Linked DNA regions of Homo sapiens: region 2 is linked to region 1. Evidence: fine-mapped expression QTL. A gene starts in region 1. The other region holds a variant in brackets. All regions are shown on one strand. Distances are between the middles of the regions. Region 1 holds the start of MPI (mannose phosphate isomerase). Region 2 overlaps SCAMP2 (secretory carrier membrane protein 2).

Region 1 (2,900 bases):
ATGTCTACCTCTTTCTACACAGACACGGCAACCATCCGATTTCTCAATCTTTCCCCCACCTTTCCCCCCTTTCTATTCCACAGAACTGCCATTGTCATCATGGCCCGTTCTCAATGAGCTGTTGGGTACACCTCCCAGACGGGGTGGTGGCCGGGCAGAGGGGCTCCTCACTTCCCAGTAGGGGCGGCCGGGCAGAGGCGCCCCTCACCTCCCGGACGGGGTGGCTGGCCGGGCGGGGGGCTGACCCCCCTACCTCCCTCCCGGACGGGGCAGCTGGCTGGGCAGAGGGGCTCCTCACTTCCCAGTAGGGGCGGCCGGGCAGAGGCGCCCCTCACCTCCCGGACGGGGCGGCTGGCCGGGCTGGGGGCTGACCCCCCCACCTCCCTCCCGGACGGGGCGGCTGGCCAGGCGGGGGGCTGTCATGAGTCTTGTATTATCCATTTTATTATTCCTTAGTGCATGGTAAAGCTTCCTTTAAAATGCAAGCTGATTTATTTGAGCCAGAGGACCCCAGGGGAGGTGAGATAGATACCCACACCTGGGCAGAGGATTACAGGGAAAACGGCACCCGCTCTTTCCCCTGGGCACATATGGTAGAGGCTGTGGGAATGAGGGTATTGCAGGGGTGATGAGGGTAGAGTCAGGACTGTAACTCCTCATTCCAGGTTCCCCGGAGCTTTGACTGTTGTGCTCCTAGCCTCAAGCAATCCTTCTGCCTCTGCCTCCTAAGGTGCTAGGATTACAGGCCTGAGCCACTGACTGTCCTCCTCCTAGGAGGCTGTTGACTGAGAAGGTCTGGATGTCAAAGCCTTTCACCACAGGATATAGCCAAGATTACTGCAGAGCCAAGGCCCAAGGCCATCCTTCCCTATGCACAGCTCTTCGTAATTCCCCTGACTTCTGTGTGTGCAACTTGTAAGCAGCTCAGCCTGGAGTAGAAGTTGGGGTTCTGACTTTCTACAGCACCTGGGACGGGAAGGATCAGAGGAGCACAGGGAGCTGACTGCCTTATAGGTGTCTCACGTCATCCCATCTGACCCTCCAACAAGCATGTCAGGCTGGCATTATTCACCCCATTCTACAAAGCTCAGAGCAGTGAAGGGCCTTGCATGTGACATTTACCATCATCATCACTAGTATGTCCCTACTCACATCACAGCAATTCTTTGCTCAAATCTGTAATTGCTGAGACTCGAAGTAAAACCCAAAGTCTTCACAATAGCAATAGCCTGCAAAGCTCTGCCCCCCTCCTCTCTTCTCTGACCTCCTCACTGCCCCTGTCTTACTCACTCTGCTCCAGCCACAGTGGCCTCCTTGCTAGCAGTTCCCTCCCCAACACGCCCGGCACAGTCCCACATTCCCGCCTTGCTCTGGCTTCCGCTGTGGCTGTTTCCTCCCCGCAGAACACTCCTGCCTTCCTCACCGCCAAGTCTGGACTCAAACCTCACCTCCTCAAGAGGCTTGCCCAGACAGCCTTTTATATTCTGCAAACTGCCTCCCACTGCCACCTGCCCCCTTACTTTTTGTGGCCTTGACCTTTCAACATACTACATGATTTGCTTACAATACTTGTCTGTCTTGCCTTCACCAGAATGTAAGCGCTCTACAAAGGCAGAGGGAAGGCTATCTTGCTCTCTGATGTATCCTCCAGCCCTTAGAACAGTCCGTGGTACTTAGCAGGTTTTCAGTACATCTGTGCCCGGCGATGGAAAGAATGAATGAATAGTGAGACCGAAGATCGCGGCCGTAAGCCTCTGGGCACGGGTGCCCCGGGGCCTGGCGGAACGCTCAGGGAACTACATTTCCCGTGAAGCTCTGGGCGCAGAGGGCCGCGGGGGCTGCCGGGAAAGGCATACGTGCTTAATCCTGGTGCAGGGGGCGAGCATGGCCGCTCCGCGAGGTGAGCCATTGGCTGGGGTGTCGGCGAGTGTGTTCGTGGAGCGCGTCCTGGGGACGACTCCCGGCATTATCGGCCAGGTTGAGTCCGCTCCTGGCATTCCGCGGAAAGATGGGTGGGTGCCGGGCAGAGGTGTGGCCACCTGCGATGGGGATTGACCTCCGAGGGGAGGGGGCCCTTCTAGACGTCGTGCCGTGGGATAGGTACCTTCTGCTCCCTCCCCGCCACCCTGCCTCAGATCAGCACAAGGTCCTTACTGCTGCCCATCTGACAGTTGGGAACATCGAGGCCTGCAGCGGAGGGGGGTCTCATCCAACAGCCTACAAAACCCTTATTTGACTCTGTCCCCAGTGAGCACCCCCAGCTCTTGCCTGGTTTCCCGGGACACTAGGGTGGGGCCTGAGGAGTGGAGTGGCAGCTGACCCTGTCTGTGCCCCTAGTATTCCCACTTTCCTGTGCGGTGCAGCAGTATGCCTGGGGGAAGATGGGTTCCAACAGCGAAGTGGCGCGGCTGTTGGCCAGCAGTGATCCACTGGCCCAGATCGCAGAGGACAAGCCTTATGCAGAGGTGAGCCCCGGGCTGTATTTCAGCCCACTTTACCCGCAGGTCAGGAGAAAGGGCCTGAGGCAAGTCATAAGAATCAGCTGGGAAGGGTGAGGCAGCAAGGAGGGAGGAGACCCACTTGGCTCTTCAGGCTAATGGACTAGATAGTGTTATCAAAAAGAAGAGAGGTTTTGTCATAATAGGCTGGGATTTCCAGCACTCTCCTTCCCCCAACCACTCTTAGCACTTAGTGAATTTTAATTCAGCCCTCTTTGACAATTAAGTTTTTTTACTTTGACTATTTTTTTGCATTTTTATTAACCTAAAATATTTCTCCTGCCTATTTAGTGGAGAAAAAGCCAAAGCATAGGAAGGCTTTCGCCTCTGCTTCTGAAACTGGAAGATGTATGTTAACCCCTGAAAGAATCATTTAAGAGTCATAGTTTTTCTGCTACCTTG
Region 2 (2,900 bases), 37 kb before region 1:
CAGGCACTGAGGAAGGCTGGAGTCTGCTGAAAGCCTGTATACCAGGGAGGAGCAGCCAGGACCAAGATGGGGCTCTCAAGTCACACCCAATTCGCCCTTGCGCTTGGAAGGCAGGAGTGGGACTCACACATCCACAGATAGTAGAGCATCTTGCATATCCGCTGGTAGTCGGCAGGGATCTCTGTGGAGAAATCCTGATAGAAGCAGGGCTTCACAGGGCACCACGAGGGCAGAGGGGGCCAGTTGTTCTGTCTCACTGGGTAGGGCAAAAAGAGTGACGAGGTAAGGGCCCAGCCTCAGAAGGGGCATCAAGGTGCATGCACGCCAGCATAGTGTATGGGCCAAACCAGGGTTCCCAGAGGGGCTCCAGCAAGCGGGGCTTGGAGTCTGCATGGAGCATGGAGTGGGACAGAACAGGATAATGGAACCCAAAGAGATACCAACAAGCTCACATGGAGATAAAAGACCCCAAATGCACTGGGAAATACAGACAGCTAAATGGCCTAAGTGATTATTTTTATTAACAAGCAGCCCATAAGTGTGAGAACTCAGTTCATCATCATTAGCAAGGAATTGTGGGACCAAAGCCCCTATGCTATCAAAGAATCAAGGAATTTGAGAGCTAGGAAGGAGTGCAGAAGTAATCTACAGCCATTACAACTACACTGCAGGTCTCCTGACTTGCAACTTACTGCTCTTCCCAGGACCAGCATCCTGTGATGAGAAGAGCCCCACAAAACTCTAAGGCAGCTCAGGGTGAATGCTGGGAGGCCCTCCGCACAGGTTTCAGGACACTCTTCTATGCCAGGCAGGGCAGCCCCAGGCCCCAGCAGCCTCCCTTACCATGCAAGTTGGCTACAGTGTTCTGCAGCTCCCGCTCCTTGCGTTCCAGCTCGGCAGCTTTCCTGTCCAGTTCTTCCTGCTGCCGGAGCAGGCCTGCCTGGGCTGCAGACACCACGGCCTGGAGAGAACAGGGGAGGTACAGGGACAGCCAGACACAACAAACAGAAACAGTGTCAGCCTGGGTAGGCAGGCAGAGAGGCCTTGCCCCAGGCAGGGACAGCCATCAAGGAGTCCCAGAAGCAGTCCCCGCCCCACAGAGTGTCTTAGGTACCAGAGACCACCTTAGAGAGGCCAACCTGTCTTCCACTGCCCCCACACCTTCCTGACCCCTTGGCCATGACTAAGCTGTCCTCTCCCCTCATCCCTAAGCTTGAGTTGGGAAAACTACCCCCATTGGCTTCTCCACCTCTTCCCCATACTGG[G/A]TCAAGGCAGCGCTCAGTGATTGTGACCTTTGGGAAAAAGACCTCACAAGAAACTAAACTATAATAAGAAACCCACAGACCCAAGCCTCATTTGAAGAGCCTGGTGGATGTGTGAGAAGGAAAACAGTGCAAGCCTGCTAACAGTGAGTGGAAAGGGGAGACACGTGAAGGCAGATGGCGTGTGCCTGAGCCTCAGGATCTGTACAAGCACCCTGCCCCATGGCCTGCCCCCAGGAGCTGCCTCCTGAGGTCCCCCTAAACTGCAATTGGCTACACCCCAGGACAGCCCCTTAGGTGTGGCCCTGCCCTGCCTGGCTTTAGTGGCATGCAGAGTCCACACTTATCTCCTCTCCAGGCGGGGTAGAGCCTCTGAGTAACAGTAAGGGACTGACTGTATGTGAGGCTGAACAGACCTGGCCCCGGGGCCCTGCACCTGCTGGCAGCTGCTGCCATTTGGGCCAGGTTCCTCCTGAAGGATGAGACTACAGTCCTTTTTAGGGAGAGATCTCAAACTGGTCATTTCACAGGATGACAAACCAGGCACATGTGTACACACACACATGTATACACACACCAACCTCTCCAAAAGCTCTTCAAAGACCTAAGGCTGACGTGGAGAGCCAAGTTTCAGGCACTGGGGGCGGAAGCAGGAGCAGAACTGACCCCGCTGTGCCACGCTGGGGGTCTTGACCTCCTCCAAGTCTGTGACGCCAGCTGAGAAGGACCCAGCTCCCTACAGCCCACCACCCAGCTGCACAGAAAGGCAACTCCGCATGTAAGGCCTGCCTCACCTCCACAGGGCTCTGGGGCCTGGGAGGGGTGTGGGGCAGGCTCCGGGTGCCCTGCCCTTCCTCCTGCTCATCTACATTAGGCCTACCTTCGGAAGCTTTCGCATGTAGCTGTCTCTGAGAATACTTTCTCCTCCTAGGAGCATCTGCCTCTCTGAGAGCTCGCTCACTGCCAGGAATTGGGCAGGCGGGAACTTGCTGGCCTGTCTAAGCAGGAGCTGCAACACACAACTCCACCATGGGTCACGCTCATAGGGGCAGCGAGGGGTGCAGCGGGAGGGCAGTGAGGCGGCGCAGTGGAGCACCAGGCACAAAGCAGGCAAGATTCACAGTATTTGGTGAAGGGACAAAGGAAGACAGGAAGGAAGGTGAGAATTAATGAAGTTAAAAAAAAGAGAGAGATTCTGGGCCCCAAGGAAGAGAGAACAAGCCAAAGGCCCGAGGAGGACCTGGAGGGGTACAACAGGGACAAATGCCCTCTCTGGAGGCACCGAGGAGCCCGGCCTGGTGAGTAGAGCTTATTTCTCAGTGGTGGTGGTGGGTGGGATGGAGGGAGTAAGGATATTAATTGGCAGAGCAGCCCCTCTACTTGTAGGTGACCAGCTCCGAACAAATTAGCAAGAGGGCCCTTAGGGGGCCAAGGCTGAAAGCTCTCTGCTTGCCCCCAGCCTCAGGGCTCAGCTACTGGTCTGGATGATTCCCTCACTGGAGAGAAAAGGCCAGAGTTCTTTGTCAGCACTACCTGGGGGGTCGGCTGGGTTGGTTCCACTGATGGCTGGAGAACCGCTGGCTGTGAGGACCCAGGGAGTTGGGTGACAGGAACTGTTGTCGCTGCATTTGTCTACAT

The links. PIP is the estimated chance that this variant, and not a neighbour inherited with it, causes the effect. A credible set is the group of variants that fine-mapping cannot tell apart.
Region 2: its variant is the best candidate, but not a certain one, in a credible set for the expression of MPI in whole blood (TOPMed, PIP 0.90).

The regions. Positions count from the first base shown.
Region 1 is chr15:74,888,190-74,891,089 of GRCh38, forward strand. MPI (mannose phosphate isomerase) reads left to right here and starts at 1,853. Exons shown (of 8, transcript NM_002435.3): 1 at 1,853-1,900; 2 at 2,338-2,465. The coding sequence starts at 1,885. RefSeq lists enhancers at 1,470-1,519, 1,680-1,979, 1,769-2,302, 2,100-2,179.
Region 2 is chr15:74,851,226-74,854,125 of GRCh38, forward strand. It overlaps SCAMP2 (secretory carrier membrane protein 2), which reads right to left. Exons shown (of 9, transcript NM_005697.5): 3 at 2,796-2,894; 4 at 844-961; 5 at 128-256. Among named protein-coding and RNA genes, the nearest start is that of ULK3, 9.5 kb to the left of the region's middle. The variant G/A (reference allele first, on the strand shown) is at 1,266.